2 separate regions of the Homo sapiens genome follow, and region 2 is linked to region 1. Evidence: fine-mapped expression QTL. Tissue or cell type: whole blood. Region 1 holds a variant in brackets; the other region holds the start of a gene. All regions are shown on one strand. Distances are from middle to middle.

Region 1 (11,220 bases):
AATGCAGGACGAGCCTTACCAGGTGCACCTGCCTGAGGGGAGGGGAGGTGGGGGTGGGGGAAAAGAGGGGAGGAGGAAAGGGGAAAGGGACGGGAAGAGGGGAGATTGGGAGGTTGGGAGAGCCAAGAACGCTCCTGCTGGAGGAAACCCCTCTAAGGTGGGGAGCGGCTCCCTGTGGATGGGAGAGGTGGCCCCTGCCCGGGGTCTGCGGGGAGGCATGTGCGTGGAACTGGGGTGTAAGGCGGGGTGCAGACTGAGTCAGGGCCCCTGAGAGTGGAGCTTGGGGAATGGGGAGAGGCTGGGATGGAGCACCCTTTGGGGACCGGCAGAGACTGTCCGCGGGCTAATTAGGGGGCCAGGGAAGGCATCCTAGGATAGCTCAGGGGCTGGGGACTGGGGCGTGGGCACGGGAAGGGTGCCCATGGGTGCCCGGAGTGGATGTGGGCGAGTGGGGCGGGGGTGGCCTTCAGACTGGCGGGATGGGAGTCCGTGGGGCATGGCTCACACCCCTCGGGTTTCCCTCCTCCGCCTCCAGGCGCTGGTAGCCGAGCTACACCGGCGGGCGCTGGTCGAGTACGTGCGGCCCCTGCTCCGTGGGCGCCTGCGCTGCAGCTCGGCGCGGACCCGCAGCCGCGTGGCCGGCAGGCTCCGGGAGGACGCGGCGCAACTGCAGAGGCTGTTCCGGCGGCTGGTCAGTGTCGGGACGCGGTTGGGGGTGTTTCAGAAACCAGGACAAGGCTTGGCTTCCGAGAATCTCAGGTCCCAAAAGCCAGGGGGAGAGGGGCAGAGCTCAGGACAGAAACTCTCACCCAACTTCGGGTCAATAGCAACCAGTAACTTTGACCGACACCCTTTGCACTTAAAACCTGGCTTTCTTGCTCTGAGAACTCGCCTCTGGGCGCTTTCCTCGGCTGTTAAATAAGGCGAATAATGGTCCCTATCCATTGTTTTGAGGATCAGATTGGTTAATTCCTGTTAAGTGCTTTGGACAGTGCCTGGCTCAGAGTTAAAACTCCTTGCATTACCAAAATTATCCGGGTGTGGTGGCTCACGCCTGTAATCCCAGCTACTTGGGAGGTTGAGGCAGGAGAATCGCTTGAACTAAGAGGCGGAGGTTGCAGTGAGCCGAGATCCTGCCACCACACTCCAGCCTGGAGGACAGAGTGAGACTCTGTCTCAAAAAAAAAAGAAAAAAAAGACTCCATGAACGTACAGAGAAACTACATGCAACAGAAACACAGAAATCCTAACATTTCTAAACCCTGGAATTAAAAACCGCCAGATCTTATTTGTACCCAGTTGTATTCAGCTGGGCTGGAAGGGCCTCATTCAGTCGCTCTTCTTGGAGTTCCAAGCCCGGAGTCCTTGGAATGTTTTCTTTGGAAAATTTTTGAGATAATTGTAGATTCACATGCAGATGTAAGAAAGAATGCAGGGAGCTTCCTTGTACACTTTGTCCAGTCTCCATCCCCGCAAAGGCAAGATTTTGCAGACGTGGAAGAGGTTTGGAGATGTTTCCCAGAGTTCCAAATTACCTGCAAAACTGGGAGGAGATTATATTATGGATTTTTCTCAAATGTGGCCATAGTATGTCTTCTGCTACATTTTATTTTTTATTTTTATTTTTATTCTTTATTTTTGAGACAGAGTCTCGCTCCGTCACCCAGGCTGGAGTGCAGTGGTGCAGTCTCCGCTCACTGTAACCTCTGCCTCTCGATTTCAAGTGATTCTCCTGCTTCAGCCTCCTGAGTAGTTGGGATTACAGGTGTGCACCACCACGCCTGGCTAATTTTTGTATTTTTAGTAGAGATGGGGTTTCACCATACTGGCCAGGTTGGTCTCGATGTCCTGACCTCTAGTGATCCACCCGCCTCGGCCTCCTCCCAAAGTGCTGGGATTACAGGCTTGAGCCACCACCCCTGGTTTCTGCTACATTTTAGAGATGGTATAACAAGCCAGGAGGGGCAGGAATTGGCAGGGTCAATCTTGGGAGGGTGTGACCCCGCACCCTCCCTCCCCTGCAGGAGTCCCAGGCCTCGTGGCTGGATGCCGTGGTGCCCCATTTGGCTGAAGTCATGCAGCTGGAAGACACGCCCAGCATCCAGGTGGAGGTGGGAGTGTTGGTGCGCGACTACCCAGACATCAGGTGAGACACCCCGCCTGGGCCAGGGCTCGCCGTGCCTGGCCGAGGTCTCCTGGCGGCCTTGGCATCCGTCCCTGTGCTTCCTGCCTCCTGAGGGAGGGAGCCGGTGAGCGTGTCTGACGGCCGTTTCCTGCTGGAACCAGGGCATTATTAATAAGATTTCCCTCCTTCTCCTGCCGCCGCTGCTGCCTCCGCCGCCACCGCCACCAGGGCTCACAAACAAACAGGCGGTCACAGGAAGCCCAGGGCAGGGGGGCGCAGGGCTGCCTGGAGGCAGGAAGGGCCAGCCCGCAGGGGAGCCGCAGGGGACTCAGGGACACGCAGGGCACACGGGCGCACACGCACTGGGACAGCGGCAGGCGCAGGCGGCATTCAACTCCTGCCAGGTCACTTCCTTTGTAGGTGACCTTCTCGGAGCCTCAGTTTCCTCATCCGTTCCATGGGGATAGTAGTATTCTCGTCATAGGGTTATTAGGGAAATTTATCATCATCATCATCATCATCATCATCCATGACTATAGTAACAATTCCAGTTCTCACTCAATGAGTTCTTATTTCAGACCTAAATAAGCATCTTACATGCCAACTTTTTTTCTTTTTTTTTTGAGACAGGGTCTCACTCTGTTTCCCTGGCTGGAGTGCAGTGGCACAATCACGGTTCACTGCAGCCTTGACCTCCTGGGCTCAAGCAGCCCTCCCACCTCAGCCTTCTGAGTAGCTGGGACCACAGGCATGCACCACAATGCCCAGCTAATTTTTTGTATTTTTTGCAGAGATGGGTTTCACCATGTTGCCCAGGCTGGTCTCGAACTTCTGGGCTCAAGTGATCTGCCTGCCTCGGCTTCCCACGAATGGGGAAGTGTGAGCCACCGTTGCCCAGCCCATGCCAACTTTATAAGGGGTATTTTGTTGTTGTTTGTTTTGTTTTGTTTTTTGAGACAGAGTCTCACTTTGTCGCCCAGGCTGAAGTGCAGTGATCTCAGCTCACTGCAACCTCTGCCTCCCGGGTTCAAGAGATTATTGTGCCTCAGCCTCCCAAGTATAGGCATGTGCCACCACGCCCGGCTAATTTTTGTATTTTTAGTAGAGATGGGATTTCACCAAGTTGACCACACTGGTCTTGAGCTCCTGACTTCAGGTGATCCGCCTGCCTCTGCCTCCCAAAGTGCTGAGATTACAGGCGTGAGCCACTGCGCTTGGCCTATAAGTAAGGGGTATAATTAAAGCTATTGAAATATCACGCCTAGCAAGTGGCAAAGGTGGAACTTGAACCCAGGCAGTAGACTGGCTCTAAAACTAGTACACCAGATCGGCCGGGCATGGTGGCTCACGCTTGTAATCCCAGCACTTTGGGAGGCCGAGGTAGGTGGATCACCTGAGGTCAGGAGTTCGAGACCAGCCTGGCCAACATGGTGAAACACCGTCTCTACTAAAAATACAAAAATTAGCCAGGTGTGATGGCACACTCCTGTAATCCCAGCTACTCGGGAGGCTGAGGCAGGAGAATTGCTTGAGCCCAGGAGGCGGAGGTTGCAGTGAGCTGAGATCGCGCCACTGCACTCCAGCCTGGCCAACAGAGCAAGACTCTGTCTCAAAACAAACAAACAAACAAACAAACACACAAAAAAACTAGTGTACCAGATCAGCACACCACACCACCATGTGACAGTGCTGGATGGTGGTGGCAGTGGTGGTGGCTGCCGGAGCAACGCCAGTCCTTGCAGTGCTATTTGGGCAGACACATTCTCAGACATACTCAGAGAAACAGAACCCCAGAAAAACAAGGAGTGAGGCATGAGCGGGTTTCAGTTTCAGCACTGAGGGTGGGGGTCCTGGAATTGATTCAGGGTGGTCAGTTCTGATTCTGGGGGATAAGGTCATGTCCTTGGGAAGGCACATATTCCTGGAGTCCCATGGGGTCCCAAGAAGTCCCAGTATTCTTGCTGATGTGGAGTTTCTGAACTTGAATATTGGATCATGAGTCAGAACTTGAATCTGTAGCTAAGTTTAAGAGTTTGCTAGCTGGGTTGGGTTTAGGGGGTTGAGCTTGAGATTAGGAGGTACCTAGGGCTGAGGATTTAGGGGGAGTGGGGTACAAGGTTTCTTTCTTTTTTTTACTTTTGAAATGGAGTCTCGCTGTGTCACCCAGGCTGGACTGCAGTGGCGCGATCTCAGCTCACTGCAACCTCTGCCTCCCAGGTTTAAGGGATTCTCTTGCCTCAGACTCCTGAGTAGCTAGGATTACAAGCGCCTGCCACCACACCCAGCTTTTTTTTTTTTTTAATGTATTTTTAGTAGAGAGAGGGTTTCGCCATGTTGGCCAGGCTGGTCTCGAACTCCTGACCTCAGGTGATCCGCCTGCCTTGGCCCCCCAAAGTGCTGGGATTACAGGCATGAGCCACGGCACCCAGCTGAGAAGGTGAATTTTAATCACGAGCTGAGGCTTGGGGTGAAAAGGAAGATCCCAGGGCTGGTTCTGGGGTTGGTTGTAAGGGGGATTTGGAGATGGTTGGAAGTGAAGTTCTGGAGGGAGCTGGTATGAGGTGAGGGCCTGGGCAAGGGAGCTGATTGGAGGGAAGGCTCTGGAGGGGACACAGAGGCCCCAGAACTCAGGCAATTTCTGGGATAGGTGAGGGGGTCAGGTGGGGTCCACGGCTGGGTTGGGTGTGTGTCTAGAGCTGGGGATCTGCATGCACCTGTCTGTTCCTCTCCCCACAGGCAGAAGCACGTGGCAGCCCTCCTCGACATCCGTGGCCTGCGCAACACAGCCGCCCGCCAGGAGATCCTGGCCGTGGCCCGGGACCTGGAACTCTCTGAGGAGGGAGCCCTGTCACCCCCTCGGGACCGTGCCTTCTTTGCAGACATCCCTGTGCCCCGCCCATCTTTCTGTCTCAGCCTCCCTCTCTTCCTGGGCCGCCTCCCCCTCTCCCGGCTGGCCAGGCCCAGTTTGGCCTGTCTGCCTCGGCCCCGGCCTCCGTCTCTAGCGCGACCTCGGGCCCAGCGCTGAGGGTCACCCAACCGCCGGCCTTAGTGACCCCATCTATGCTGCTGACAAGCCAACCTCCCGTACGGCGCCCCTCCTGACTCCCTGCCTGGGACCACACACCCCTGGGATAGAAAGACCCTTAGATGTCTT[T/C]TCACCCAACCCCAAACTCCCTGTACAGAAGGGAAACAAACGCCAGGCACGGTGGCTCATGCCTGTAATCCCAACACTTTGGGAGGCTGAGGCCGGAGGATTGCTTGAGCCCAGGAGTTCAAGACCAGCCTGGGCAACATAGTGAGACCTGCCCCCTATCTCTACAAAAAATAAAAAATTAGCTGGGCACGGTGGTGTGTGCCTGTAGTCCCAGCTACTGGTGAGGCTGAGGCTGGAGGATCACTGGAGTTCGAGGCTGCAGTGAGCTATGACTGTGCCACTGCACTCCAGCCTGGTCAACAAAGCAAGACCCTTTCTCAAAAAAAAAAAAAAAAAAAAAAGGTAGGGGGAAACAGAGGCCAAAGAGACAAAGCATTTTCCCAAGGCCATGAAGCCTGTTCCCAGCACCTCCCCTCCTGCCATAGCCCAGAGTGGTGAGTGTCGTTCTGGAAGTCTCTACAGAAATATCCCAGCTCCCCCGCCCCTTTCCCTCACCTCAAGGTCTGGCCCCAATCCAATGTATTAAGGAACGTTCGATACTTAGAATAAAGAGGTTTCTATTTAACACAAGGAAGGGCTGAGTCCTGAGTGTGTTGTGGGGAGGAAGGACCGGGGAAGCAGGGCCCCGGGCCAGTGGCTTCTCACACACCCAAGGCCGGGCTGGGCTCCAGCTCCTGGGCAGGGTAGTGGAGGTAGAGGGAGGCTGCATGTGCTGGGAGCGACGCCAACCCATGTACACCTCCTGGCTGTGTGGCTCTGAGGCCAGGCCTTCGCCACTCTGAGCCAGGGTCCCTCGTCTGGTCAATCTCAAAGTGCCTGTCCATTCCTGGTCCTGGTGGCTCCATCTTGGCACACCCTCCCCATCCATCCTTAGCCGGGAAGCTGCCCTGTCAGGAGAGGAAGGAGGTTGGGGGCAGGGCTGGCGGCATCCAGGGCGCCCTCCTGGGTTGACGCAGGAAAGTCTCGGGGTGGGAAAATTTCCAGCCTCTCACCCCCAGCCCCGCCGGATCCTAGTCCCCACGGAGACCTTGAGGTCACCTCCCTGCTGACTCCTGCCCCTCCGGCCTGGGCTGGACAGCCCGTGATGGATGTTTCCTGACTTGTGGGATTTTTTGTGTGTATGTGGTTTTTTTTTTTTTCCCTGAGAAGTCAGAAAGAGGAGGCAGCCAGGGGTTAGCACTGGGGCTGGGTTTGGAACTTCACGCATGCACATTTGAACTTGGGGAGGTAGAGACGAGGGACTCTCGGAGCCCAAGGCTGTGCTTCCTGACCCGAGGCAGGAAGCTGCCCCTCTCTGGGCTGAGGTTCCTGTGCCTTTCTGGGGGAATTGCTTAAACTCTCTTTCCCCAGGCTGAGGCAAGAATGTCCTGAGGGTGCACCTTCCTCACTTTGCCCTCTGAAAATGACATTTTCTTTTTTTTTTTTTTTTCAGTCAGAGTCTCATTCTGTCGCCCAGGCTAGAGTGCAATGGCGCGATCTCAGCTCACTGCAACCTCCACCTCCCAGGTTCAAGCAATTTATTCTCCTGCCTCAGGCTCCTGAGTAGCTGGGATTACAGGTGCCCCCCCTCCACCACCACCATACCCAGCTAATTTTTGTATTTTTAGTAGAGACGGGGCTTCACCATGTTGGCCAGGCTGGTCTCCAACTCCTGACCTCAAGTGATCTACCCGCCTCAGCCTCCCAAAGTGCTGGGATGACAGGCATGAGCCACTGTGCCCAGCCCGAAAATGACACTTTTTATGTTGCCAATATGCAAAAGAGCAAGAGAGGAGTTGAGGAATCAACAATATTGTGCAGTCCATAGACATTTATTATTTATTTTTTAGAGACAGGGTCTTTGCTCTGTTGCCCAGGCTGGAGTGCAATGACACGATCATAGCTCACTGCAGCCTCTACCTCCTAGCCCAAGTGATCCTCCCACCTCAGCCTTCTGAGTAGCTGGGACTACAGGCTCGTGCCAGCACACCCAGCTAATATTTTATTTGTTTTGTAAAGACAGAGTCTCACTATGTTGACCAGGTTGGCCTCAAGCCATCCTCCTGCCTCATCCTCCCAAAGTGCTGGGATTACAGGCGTGAGCCACTGCCACTGCCCTGTAGGCGTTGAATTAAACATATAAGAGCCTCAGTTTGTCAATGTACTTTTCAGATGTTGGTCCTCCATTGAAAAACAGCTTTTGGCTGGGCACAGTGGCTCACACAGCAGTTTGGGACACAGAGGTGGGAGGATCGCCTGAAGCCAGGTGTTCAAGGTTGCAGTTGGCTGTGATTGTGCCTCTGCGTTGTAGCCTAGATGATAGGTGAGACCTTGTCTCATTAAAAAAGAAAAAAAAAAAAGTGGCCGGGTGAGGTGGCTCACACCTGTAATCCCAGCGCTTTGGGAGGCCGAGGTGGGCGGATCATGTGAGGTCAGGAGTTCGAGACCAGCCTGGCCAACGTGGAGAAACCACATCTCTACTAAAAATTCAAAACTTAGCCAGGCGTGGTGGCGCATCTATAATCCCAGCTACTCCAGGAGGCTCAGGCAAGAGAATCACTTGAGCCCAGGAGGCAGAGGTTGAAGTGAGCCGAGATCGTGCCCCTGCACTCCAGCCTAAGAGACAGAGCAAGACTCCATCTCAAAAAAAAAAAAAAAAAAAAAAAAAAAAGTTAAAATAGTAAATTTTATGTATATTTCAGCACAATAAAAAAATTTTAAATAAAGAAACCTCATACTCATTTGTAGTTAATATCCAATCTCCCTAGTAACTTTCTAGCCCTAAGCAGACACTAATCTCTCTGTCTCTATTAATCTACCTATTTTGGACTTTTCACATTTGGAAATACATAACGTAGTCTTTTGTGACTGATGTTTTTCATGTGCATAATTTTGTTTTGTTTTGTTTTGTTTTTGAGACAGAGTTCTGGCCAGGCACAATGGCTCACGCCTGTAATCCCAGCACTTTGGGAGGTGGCTGAGGTGGGCGGATCACGAGGTCAGGAGATGGAGACCATCCTGGCTAACACAGTGAAACCCCATCTTTACTAAAAATACAAAAATTAGCCGGGCGTGGTGGCGCATGCCTATAATCACAGCTACTTGGAAGGCTGAGTCAGGAGAATCGCTTGAACCCGGGAGGCAGAGGTTGCGGTGAGCAAAGATGGTGAGCCAAGATGGTGCCACTGCACTCCAGCCTGGGCAACAAGGGCGAAACTCCGCCTCAAAAAAAATAAAATAGGCCGGGCATGGTGGCTCACGCCTGTAATCCCAGCACTTTGGGAGGCCGAGGCGGGCGGATCACGAGATCAGGAGATCGAGACCATCCTGGCTAACACGGTGAAACCTCGTCTCTACTAAAAATACAAAAAATTAGCTGGGCGTAGTGGCAGGCGCCTGTAGTCCCAGCTACTCGGGAGGCTGAGGCAGGAGAATGGAGTGAAACCGGGAGGCGGAGCTTGCAGTGAGCCGAGATTGCATTACTGCACTCCAACCTGGGCGACAGAGCAAGACACTGTCTCAGAAAAAAACAATAATAACAATAAAATAAAGAAATAGAACTACTCTCTTCGAAATTTTCAAGTATACAATACATTGTTATTAACTGTAGTTGGTCAGGCGCAGTGGCTTATGCGTGTAATCCCAGCACTGTGGGAGGCCAAGGTGGGCGGATCACTTGAGGTCAGGAGTTTAAGACCAGCCTGGCCAACATGGTGAAACCCCATCTCTACTAAAAATATAAAAATTAGCCGGGCATGGTGGTGCTCGCCTGTAATCCCAGTTACTCAGGAGGCTGAGGCAGGAGAATGGTTTGAACCCGGGAGGCAGAGGTTGCAGTGAGCCGAGGTAGCACCATTGCACTCCAGCCTGGGCAACAGAGAGAGACTCCATCTCAAACAAACAACAAAAAAAAAACAAAACTGTAGTCACCATGTTGTGCAATAGATCTCCTGAACTTACTCCTCCTAACTGAAATTTGTATCCTTTGACCACCGTCTCCCCAGTCCTCCTTTTCCTCTTTTCTAATTAAGCATTTAAAAATCTATCAATGTCTTTCTAAGCATTACTTTATCTCATGTCATGTATTTTGATATGTTATTTTTTTTCATTGAGTTTTATGTAGTTTATACTTTCTCTTTTGATTTCTTCTTCGACTTCTGGGTTATTTACTTTCCAAATACTTGTGGGCTTTTTTTTTTTTCTTTCTGAGATAGTTTCACTCTTGTTGCCCAGGCTGGAGTGCAATGGCACAGCCTCAGCTCACTGCAACCTCAGCCTCCTGGATTCAAGTGATTCTCCTGCCTCAGCCTCCCAAGTAGCTGGGATTACAGGCACCCACCACCACACCCAGCTAATTTTTGTATTTTTAGTAGAGATGGTGTTTCACCCTGTTGGTCAGGCTGGTCTCGAACTCCTGACCTCATCAGGTGATCTGCCCACCTGGGCCTCAAAGTGCTGGGATTACAGGCGTGAGCCACCACGCCCGACACCACGCCCAGCTAATTTTTGTATTTTTAGCAGAGACAGCGTTTTGCCATGTTGGCTAGGCTGGTCTCAAAGTCTTGACTTCAAATGATCCACCCACCTCGGCCTCCCAAAGTACTGAGATTACAGGTATGAGCGATGGCACCTGACTGATTATTTTTATTTCTAAGAGATTATAGATTCATAAGAAGTTACAAAAAGAGAGGCTGGGTGTGGTGGCTCATGCCTGTAATCCCAGCACTTTGGGAGGTCAAGGAGGGCAGATCACGAGATCAGGAGTTCGAGACCAGCTTGGCCAACATGGCAAAACCCGTCTCTACTAAAAATACAAAACTTAGCTGGGCGTGGTGGCAGGTGCCTATAATCCCAGCTACTTGGAAGGCTGAGGCAGAAGAATCGCTTGAACCCAGGAGGTAGAGGTTGCGATGAGCCAAGATTTCGCCACTGCACTCCAGCCTGGGTGACACAGCAAGACTCCATCTCAAAAAAAAAAAAAAAGTACATGGTGGTCTTGTTTGCCCTTCATCCACTTACCTGATGCTAACATCTTATATAACTGTAATACAACATCAAAACAGGACATTGACATTAGTTCAATTCTAAGACCTTAATCTTCCAATTTCACTGGTTTTACTCACTCCTATGTGTACCTGTGCACATGTGTGTGTATGCAGGTGTATGCGTGTGCACCTGCACATTCCTATGTGTAGCACTAGGCAAAAATTTTTTTTAATTTTTTGAGATGGAGTCTCGCTCTGTCTCCCAGGCTGGGGTGCAGTGGTGTGATCTCAGCTCTCTGCAACCTCCACCTCCTGGGTTCAAGCAATTCTCGTGACTCAGCCTCCCGAGTAGGTGAGACTATAGGTGTGCGCTACCACGCCCAGCTAGGTTTTTTTTTTTTTTTTTTTTTTTTTTTTTTTGAGACAGAGTCTCGCTCTGTCACCCACACTGGAGTGTGGAGTGCAGTAGCACTTGAATGTAGACTGCGAGAAGTTAAAGATGTGGACTATAAACTCTACAGTGACCATTAAAAAAACAAGGCAGGTGAGGCGCGGTGGCTCACGCCTGTAATCCCAGCACTTTGGGAGGCCGAGGCGGGTGGATCACCTTAGGTCAGGAGTTTGAGACCAGCCTGGCCAACATGGCGAAACCCCATCTCTACTAAAAATACAAAAATTAGTCGGGCTTGGTGTCGGGCACCTGTAGTCCCAGCTACTCAGGAGGCTGAGGCAGGAAAATCACTTGAACCCGGGAGGCAGAGATTGCACTAAGCCGATATCGTGCCACTGCATTCCAGCCTGGGCAACAGAGTGAGACTCTGTCTCAAAAAAAATAAAATAGCTGGGCGCGGTGGCTTACACCTGTCATCCCAGCACTTTGGAAGGCTGAGGAGGGTGGATCACTTGAGGTCAGGAGTTCAAGACCAGCCTGGCCAACATGGTGAAACCCTATCTCTATTAAAACAAATTAGCTGGGC
Region 2 (9,751 bases), 32 kb before region 1:
CTACCCTGCACTCAGCCAAAAGCTGGTTGTGAAAGCACAGCACTGCTTGATACTATGAGCAACACAGACTCATGGCAGTTGCCCTTGTGCCAGGCTCTGAGCAGTTTCTCCTTTCTGCCACCCCAAGAGGTAGGGAGCATCTTTATCAATCCCATTTGCAGATGAGGAAACAGAGGCCCAAGGAAGGGAGAAACGTCACACGCTGAAGGTCACACGGCAAATTAGTGGCAGGGCTACAATTTGAATCCAAGTGCTCCCAAGTTCCAGAACTTGGACCCTCTCTCAACCACTGTGGTTTCCTGTCTCCGAAAAATAATAGCAGCAACCTCAGGCTGCTACTATTTTTATTTGTCAATTTGTTTATATTTATTTGTTATTTTAATGTTACTGCTAACAAATAAATGAGAATCTTTGAGTAAAGTGCTTCACAGGGGACCAGATTCAAAATTCATATGTGGGGACATTATTATTACTATTTGGCAAATATGGCCCGAGGAGCCTCAGGGACAGTGGCAGAGAGGGTGGAGTTCCGGGGTAGTGTTCTAGACGTACTGTGATCCCAGGGACGCCGCAGGGTGAAAGTGGGGGTCTTGGGGGTAGGCTAGAGGGGCTGAGCGCCCCCAACCCGTTCCCTGCATTGGCGCTGAGAGCTGCAGTTCTACCGTGCACCACACGGGGGCAGCCGATCACCTCCCTACACGCGCCCCACACACTCCAGGGTCCACCCCTGCCCTCCCTTCCCCAACAGCGTCCCCACCCCATTTCCCAGATGTGGGGGGACCGAGGCTTACAGAGAGGGAGGCTGCAAAGTGGATGAACCTTGAAAACAGCATGTGGCCGGGCGCGGTGGCTCACGCCTGTAATCCCAGCACTTTGGGAGGCCGAGGCGGGCGGATCACGAGGTCAGGAGATCGAGACCACGGTGAAACCCCGTCTCTACTAAAAATACAAAAAATTAGCCGGGCGCGGTGGCGGGCGCCTGTAGTCCCAGCTACTCAGGAGGCTGAGGCAGGAGAATGGCGTGAACCCGGGAAGCGGAGCTGGCAGTGAGCTGAGATCGCGCCACTGCACTCCAGCCTGGGCGGCAGAGTGAGAATCCGTCTCAAAAAAGAAAAAAAGAAAACAGCATGTTTAGCGAAAGAAGTCAGACGCAAAAGACCACTTACTGTATGCTTCCATTCATATGAAATATTCAGAATTGGCAAATCCATAGACAGAAAGTAGATTAATGGTTGCCAGGGGTTGGAGGCTGGGGAATGAGAAATGACTGCTGATGGGTACCAGGTTTCTTTTTGGGGTGATGAGAATGTTCTGGAATTAAATAGTGGTGACGCTTGCTGCAACCTTGTGAATATACTAAAACCTACCGGACTCTGTTTGAAAAGGGTGACTCTTATGTATGTGAATTGTATTTCAATAAAAAATAATAATAAAATTTAAAAAGGGGGCTGGACGCGGTGACTCACACCTGTAATCCCCGTACTTTGGGAGGCCAGAACGGGAGGATCACTTGAGCCCAGGAGTTCGAGACCAGCCTGGGCAACATAGTGAGACCCTGTCTCTAAATCAAAATAAAAAAAATAATTTTTAAAAAGGAGGGGGACGGGCACGGTGGCTCACGCCTGTAATCCCAGCCCTTTGGGAGGCCGAGGCGGGCAGATCACGAGGTCAGGAGATCGAGATCATCCTGGCTAACACAGTGAAAACCTGTCTCTACTAAAAAAAATACAAAAAATTAGCCGGGCGCTTGCAGGTGGCAAGCGCCTGCGTCCCAGCTACTCGGGAGGCTGAGGCAGAAGAATTGCTTGAACCCAGGAGGCGGAGGTTGCAGTGAGCAGAGATCACGCCACTGCACTCCAGCCTGGCGACAGAGCAAGACTCCGTCTCTAAATAAATAAATAAATAAATAAATAAATAAGGCGGGGTGGAAATCCTGCACGATCCCAGTACATGATGGGCCACTGCTGACCATGGGTCCGCGGTGCAGAGGCCGAGCTGGGGGGCAAGGCCTGTTCCTCTGCCTCCCGACCTGGTCATCCAGCTAGCCCTTCCTCCACAACCTATGTCTGGTGAATTCATTCCTTCAACTGGGGCATTCAGACCTTTGAATCTTAACCCTTGGATCCAGGAGGGAGCTGTGATCCCTAAGCCCAGCCCCCGATCCTAATGTTGACCCCAACCCTGATCCCAGCCTGGACTTTGCCTAGGCCAGTGATCACGCATCCCCCTCAGGCTGTGCCTGAGCACTTGAACACAGTTTATCTTATTTATTTATTTGTTTGTTTGTTTATTTGAGATGGAGTCTCACTCTGTCTCACAGGCCGGAGAGTGCAGTGGCACAATCTCGGCTCACCGCAACCTCTGCCTCCTGGGTTCAATCGATTTCTTCCGTCTCAGCCTCCCGAGTAGCTGGGATTACAGGTATGCACCACCACACCTGGCTAATTTTTGTGTTTTTAGTAGAGGCAGGGTTTCATCAGTTTGGCCAGGCTGGTCTCAAACTTCTGACCTCAAGCGATCCACCCACCTTGGCCTCCCAAAGTGCTGGGATTATAGGCATAAGCCACTGCAACCAGCCCAGTTTTATTTATTTAAAAAAAATTTTTTTTTTCTTAATTTTTGAGACAGGGTCTCTCTCTGTCACCCAGGCTGGAGCGCAGTGGCGAGATCATGGCTCACTGCAGCCTCCACCTCCCAGGATCAAGTGATCCTCCCACTTCAGCTCCCTTAGTAACTAGGACTACAGCGTGCCACCACACTTGGCTAATTAAAAAAATTTTTTTTTTTGTAGAGACGGGGTCTTGCTATATTATCAGGCTGGTCTTGATCTCCTGGGCTCAAGCAATCCCCCTGCCTTGGCTCCCAAAGTGCTGGAATTACAGGCATGAGCCACCACACATGGCCCTAGCCTTTTAAAGTAACCCTGACTCTCATACCCAACCCCACCCAGCACCAGCTCCAGCCCCAGCCCTCACTTCACTTGGCATCCCAACTCTAGCAGGAAGTCCATCTCCAAACCCACCTCCAACCCTCAGCTTCATTTAAATTCATTTAAATCTTGACTACTGAGGGCCAGGCACGCAGCTAGGCTTATAAAGATGAACAGGATCAACAAAGTGAGCTTTGCTGAGTTTATCTGCAAGGAATCCAGTTGCATCTGATAATTTCAGATTGTAGAAGGTGCAATAAAGAAATTGACAGGCTGGGCACAGTGGCTTACGCCTGTAATCCCAGCACTTTGGGAAGCCGAGGCAGGAGGATGGCTTGAGGCCAGGAGTTTGAGACCAGCCTGGAGAACCTAATGAGACCCGTGTCTCTACAAAAAATACAAAAATTAGCTGGGCATGGTGGTGCATGCCTGTAGTCCCAGCTACTCAGGAAGCTGAGGTGGGAGGATCTCTTGAGTCTGGGAGATCCAGGCTGCAGTAAGCTATTGTTACGCCACTGCACTCCAGCCTGGGCAACAGAGCAAGACTCTGTCTCAGGAAAAAAAAAAAGAAAAATAAATTGACAAAGCAGAGTGACGACTCTGTGAGACGGGACAGTGGAGAACAGAGGAAGAGACTGTGGGGCTGGAACTGGGATGATGAAAAGGAGGGCCTCATGCAGAGACCTGGGTACAGGGGCTTCTAGACAAAGAGAACCACAATTCCAAAGCCATGTCCAGTGCCCTCCTCCATAGGTCCCCCTCCCCAGCCCCTGGGCCCAGCAAAACTTCCCTCCTGGTCTTCAGCCCGTGGCAGGGAACTCTAGAGAGATGCGTGCCTGCCCCCCGGTTCTCATTCTAAGGCCTCGGGGCTTGCCCATGCTGGAGAGCAGCTCTGGGCTGGCGTCCAGCTTGGGGTGTCTCCCCGGGGCGCCCAGGATGGTGTTGTCACCTTGGGAGGCGTGAAGAGCATGCAGGAGTGGGCGGATTCCGGCCTGGAGCGGGGGTGAGGGTGGGGGCCCAGCTGTGGGCCTCGGCCTTCCCAGCCCAACCGCAGCCTGGCCTAAAAGGGCAGACAGATAATGAGTCCTTCCCGCCCCTGGCCCCAGAGAGGGAGGGGTTTCCTGACAGGAAATTGTCCTCCTCCGAGCACCCCCCCAACTCAGATCCAAGCTCCCAGCAGTCCTGGCTGAAGTAGCCTGGGGACAGGACAGCAGCGGGAACAGAAGGACGGGCAGGAGGACAGAGGTGAGTGTGCTGGGGACAGGGGGAAGGGGTCCCCCTTCCCCAGGGCAACTGGGAAAACAGTTGCCCTTAGTTGCACTGGACCAGAGCTGATGAGAACCTGTACCTTGAACCCAGCAGAGGCTGGGGGCAAAGAGAGAATCTGGGGCCTGACTCCAGAGGGGTGCTGGCGAGAAGGCAGAAAGGAGATGAAAATGAGAGGAGGGTGCAGGGGAGAATTTGAGGACTCGCGGGGTCCACAAAGGGTGCAAGGGAGCATTAGAAACCTTGGTGCCACCAAAGGAGAATAGAGATGAGATGACATTGGGTCGAATGTCCTGCGAGTCTGGGCGGGAAGACTGAGGCCAGGAAGGATCGGGTATTTGTTCTATCCCAAGAGATGGGGTCTCGGAGATGGGAGACAGGGACCAGGTAGGGATTGAGATCAAGCAGGAGAGACCGAGATCAGGTTGGGATTGGAGATGTGGATGAGCTTGCAGTGGTCTGGGCTGATGACAGGATTGTGTTTGGGGTCAAGGACTAGATTGGGGTTGCACTGGTTGGGGTTGGGCTTGGGGACATGCCATATGGAAAGACCGTTCTCTAATACAGATGCTGAGCGTTGGAGGTGATGGATTCCGCAAACCGAGGTCAGGGCCGCTGCAGAAGGTTAGGGACTCCGGGGAAAAGGCTGGCAGTGAGGAAGAGGAGGAGGGGCTCAAAGAGGGAAGCTCTGGTGGCCAAGACATCCTGCGGGCCTGAGAGGCTGGGGGCTTGAGGGATGCCTCGGAAGTGAGTCAGGGGCTGGGCACTGGGAGGCAGACAGAGGGTTGGAGGGGGCAGGATGTCAGCACCAGTTTGCAGAGGCGGGTGTTGGAGCCAGGAAGGGGAAAGACGTCGGAGACAGTTTTGGGAAAATGTTGCAGCCAGGTTTGGGGATGTTGGATCCAGTTTGGAGGCGATATTGAAGCCAGGTGGGGGAAAGTCAGATGTAGTCCGGGCAAGGTTGACTTCAATTGGAGGGAAATTCGAGCCTGAAATTTTGAGAGGAAGATGGAGACAGTTATGGGGTGGAGGGGGGATGATGGAGCCATTTTGGGATGAGGCATGTGGATGCCAGTTCAGAGGATGAAAGAGAAATCAAGGCTGGGTGTGGTGGCTCATGACTGTAATCCCAGCACTTTGGGAGGCTGGGGCAGGTGGATCGCTTGAACTCAGGAGTTGACCAACCTGGGCAACAGGGCGAAACCTCATCTCTACTAAAAATACAAAAATTAGCCAGGTGTGGTGACTTGCACTTGTACTCCCAGCTACTCGGGAGGTTGAGGTGGGAGGATTGCTTGAGCCTGGGAAGCAGAGGTTGCAGTGAGCCGAGACCATGCCACTGCACTCCAACCTGGGTGACAGAGTGAGACTGTCTAAAAAATAAAAGAGAAGGACAGAGTGCGGTGGCTCACACCTGTAATCCCAGCACTTTGGGAGGCTGAAACAGGCGGATCACAAGGTCAGGAGTTCGAGACCAGCCTGGCCAATATGGTGAAACCCCATCTGTACTAAAAATACAAAAATTAGCCAGGCGTGGTGGTGGGCACCTGTAGTCCCAGCTACTTGGGAGGCTGAGGCAGGAGAAATCGCTTGAACCCTGGAGGTGGAGGTGCAGTGAGCTGAAATCGCGCCATTGCACTCCAGCCTGGGTGACAGAGCGAGACTCCATCTGAAAAAATAAAATAAAATAGAAGAGAAATGAGTGTGCAAATAATGTGTGTGCATGGGGGAGTATCTATTGCACACAGCCATGGGGGCTCCAGGCAAGGGGTCGTCATGGTGACTGCCTCCTGTGGGGGCGGGGGCCCATGGAGACCGGAAGGAGGTCCGAGAGCGTTTCTAGGAACTGGAGGGTTGAGAAGCAGCAGCTCAGGGGTTGAAACAGGGAAAGAAAGAAGGGGCCTCCCCATCATGGAAAGGGGTGCTCTTACTCATAACCTAGGCAACCCAGGCCTTTTGCACACCACCCTCTTCCCAGGCCTCCTGTCCACCCCCGCACGTCTGCATAATCCTGACCCTGTCCTGACCTGCTCAGAACCCTGTCGTGGTGACAAACAAGCTACACGTCCAGCAATAGAAGAACAAGTGAACATCTGACCCTTTACACAATTCATATAGTGGAATATTACATAGCACTTAAATGAACTGGAGCTGTATGGCTAGACATGGATAAATTCTCACAAGTTCATAACGTGAGCAAAAAAATAAATTTTAAAGCAAGTTGCAAGATACAAATAGTATGATACCATTTATAGAGAGTTTGAAACCATGTAGAACAGTATATTATTTCTGGATACAAGTCTATGGAGCATGGGATAAAAATCTACTTGGACGGGTAAACAGCACATTCATTCTGGATGCTGGATTCCTTAGGAGAAGGCCAGAGCGAGTGGGACCAGGAGAGGTGGCAGGAGGAGGCTGCACGCATTTGTAATTCTTTTTTTTTTTTTTTTTTTTTGAGATGGAGTTTCGCTCTGTTGCCTAGGCTGGAGTGCAGTGGCACAGTCTGGGCTCACTGCAGCATCCGCCTCCTGGGTTCAAGTGATTCTCCTGCCTCAACCTCCCAAGTAGCTAGGACTACAGGCACCCGCCACCACACCCAGCTAATTTTTGTGTTTTTAGTAGAGGCAGGGTTTCACCATGTTTGCCAGGTTTGTCTCAAACTCCTGACCTCAGGTGATCCTCCCTCCTCGGCCTCCCAAAGTGCTGGGATTATAGGCGTGAGCCACTGCGCCTGGCTTGTTCTTTAAAACAAAAATCAGGGCAGTGGATGGTGGCTCACGCCTGTAATTCTAGTACTTTGGGAGGCCGAGGAGGGAGGATTGCTTGAGGCCAGGAGCAGGAGTTCCAGACCAGCATGGGCAATATAGCGAGACCCCATCTATAACAAAAAATTAAACAATAAAATTAGCAGGATGTCCCCGTTGCTTGGGAGGCTGAGGTGGGAGGATCGCTTGAGCCCAGGAGTTCAAGGCTGCAGCCAGCCATGATCACGCCTCTGCACTCCAGCCTGGGCAACAGAGTGAGATCCTGTCTCTAAAGACAAAAGCAACAACAAAAACCTGAACTAAGAGAGCAAATGATTGTGTGAGCTGTGGCTAGGATTGTAGGCACAGAAGTGTTTATTAAGCTTGTCTTCTGTACTTTTCCGAATGTTTGAACTATTTCATTGTTTTAAAAAGCACCTATCTGTGGCTCTGCAGGGCTCTTGGAAGAAAGCCTGTCCCTTATCAAGGAACTTAAAGCCCTGCGTGGCCTGCTCCCTAGTGACCTCTTCCAGCTCGACTCACCCTCCTCCTCCCCACACAAGGAATGAACTGTCTTGCCACTTTCCTTCCTTCATTTCCTGTTTAGCACCCATTCCCTGAGTGTCTGCCCTGTGCTGGGAGCTGGGGACACAGTGGTGACTGAGACAGCCCCAGCCCTGTCCTGCTGAGGTTTGCAGTCCAGTAAGGGACACAGATCTGTCCCCAGACAGGGATGACCCAGAGCAGGCAGAGGTGAGGTGTGGGAACCCAGGGACTGGGAGCCTGAGGGTCACAGAGGGCTTCCTGGAGGAGGGGGCATGGGGCTGAGTCCTGAAGTGTGAGTCCTGAAGTCCTGACTGGAGCATGGAGAACAGGCGTCTATGTAGAAGCACCAGCAGATGCTGAAACCTGGAGGTTCCTGGGGTAAGGAGGAGGCTACGGGACAGCACTAGTGACGTGTGCAGCTGCCAGAGCATGAAGGCTGTGGTGAGAGGCCTCAGCTTTGTCCTGAAGATACTAGGGAGCCATGGAAGGCTTAGGAGATGGAGAAGAGCAGGTTTGTGCTTTTTCTTTTCTTTTTTTTTTTTTTTTTTTGAGATGGAGTCTTGCTCTGTCGCCCAGGCTGGAGTGCAGTGGCGCGATCTCAGCTCACTGCAATCTCCGCCTTCCGCGTTCATGCCATTCTCCTGCCTCAGCCTCCCGAGTAGCTGGGGCTACAGGCGCCTGCCACTGCACCCAGCTAATTTTTTGTATTTTTAGTAGAGACGAGGTTTCACCATGATCTCGATCTCCTGACCTTGTGATCCGCCCGCCTCGGCCTCCCAAAGTGCTGGGATTACAGGCGTGAGCCACTGCACCCGGCCTGGTTTGCGCTTTTTCAAGGTCCTCAAAGGCGGACTGGAGGTGCCAAGACTAGAGGCTGGGGACCAGGGAGGAGGCCAGGGCAGGGAAGTGGGCAAGGGTTCCGCTTGGGGTAGGGGCTATGGGAAGTGAGTGAAAGGAGGGAGCGCAGACTGAAGAGAGGCTTAGGAGATGGAATGGGCAGGACTCAGGAAGCTGTAATGGCAGGGATGGGGGCTGCCCTGGCCACTGCTGTGTCCCTAACGCCTGCACAGGGCTGGGCCCATGGCTAATACCTAGTAAGTTGTTTTGTTTTATTTTATTTTTTGAGACTGAGTCTTGCTCTATTGCCCAGGCCAGAATGCGGTGGTGTGATCTCAGCTCACCGCAACTTCTGCCTCCTGGGTTCAAACAATTCTCCTGCCTCAGCCTCCCGAGTAGCTGGGATTACAGGTGCATGCCACCACGCCCGGCTAATTTTTTACTTTTTTTATTTTTAGTAGAGACGGGGTTTCACCATGTTGGCCAAGCTGGTCTCGAACTCCTGACCTCAGGTGATCTGCCTGCCTCCACCTCCCAAAGTGCTGGGATTACAGGCATGAGCGACCACGCCTGGCCTTAAGCCATTTTAAAAGCATACAATTAAGTGGCACTTAATGCATTCACAGTGTTGTACAACCATCACCTTTATCTAGTTCCAGAGTGTCTTCCTTTCCCCAAAAGGAAACCCTGCATCCATTAGCAGCCACTCGCCATTCCCCGTTCTCTCCAGTCCTATTGTCAGTCTCCTTTCTGTCTCTAAGGATTTGCCTAGAGACCTGCGAGGTGATTTGCACCTGTAATCCCAGCACTTTGGGAGGCAGAAGTGGATAGATCCCTTGAGGCCAGGAGTTTGAGACCAGCCTGGGCAACATAGCAAGACCCTGTCTCAATAAATAAATAAATAAATTAATTAATTAATTAAGTGGGCATGGTGGTACACACCTGTAGTCCCAGCTGCTGAGGAGGCTGAGGTACGAGGATCATTTGAGCCCAGGAGTTTCAGGCTGCAGTGAACTATGATGGGGCCATTGCACTCCAGCCTGGGTGACAGGGTGAGTCCCAGTCTCAAAAAAAAAAAAAAAAAAAATTAGGCTTTGCCTATTCTAGACATTTCCCAATAAGTTTTTGCTGAAGAGATGAATGAGGGAGAGATGACAAGGGTACAAATCAAACAGGAGAAATGAAGGGGATGAGGGGGTGTAGGCAGGTGCTCAGGAGTCTGCCCTGGACGTCTGGGTGGATGGTAGGGCCTGAGTCCCCATATCATCTCTGCCCTTGACTGACTGTGTCATCTTGGGAGGGAGCCTTCCCCCCTCTCAGCCTGTTTCTCCACGGAGTAGGAGGATCAACTTAAGATAGAGAATATTCCAGGCCAGCAGAGGTGGCTCACTCTTGTAATCCCAGCACTTTGGGAGGCTGAAGTAGG

The links. PIP is the estimated chance that this variant, and not a neighbour inherited with it, causes the effect.
Region 2: it holds the start of EXOC3L2, and the variant in region 1 is fine-mapped to the expression of EXOC3L2 in whole blood (INTERVAL, PIP above 0.99).

The regions. Positions count from the first base shown.
Region 1 is chr19:45,206,999-45,218,218 of GRCh38, reverse strand. It overlaps EXOC3L2 (exocyst complex component 3 like 2), which reads left to right. Exons shown (of 12, transcript NM_001382422.1): 9 at 1-22; 10 at 536-691; 11 at 2,025-2,146; 12 at 4,862-5,849. The coding sequence ends at 5,150. It also overlaps a transcript of BLOC1S3 not described here. Among named protein-coding and RNA genes, the nearest start is that of EXOC3L2, 33 kb to the left of the region's middle. RefSeq lists enhancers at 1-454, 455-1,150, 1,773-2,307. The variant T/C (reference allele first, on the strand shown) is at 5,280.
Region 2 is chr19:45,239,764-45,249,514 of GRCh38, reverse strand. It overlaps EXOC3L2 (exocyst complex component 3 like 2), which reads left to right and starts at 4,108. Exons shown (of 12, transcript NM_001382422.1): 1 at 4,108-4,174. RefSeq lists an enhancer at 3,418-4,414.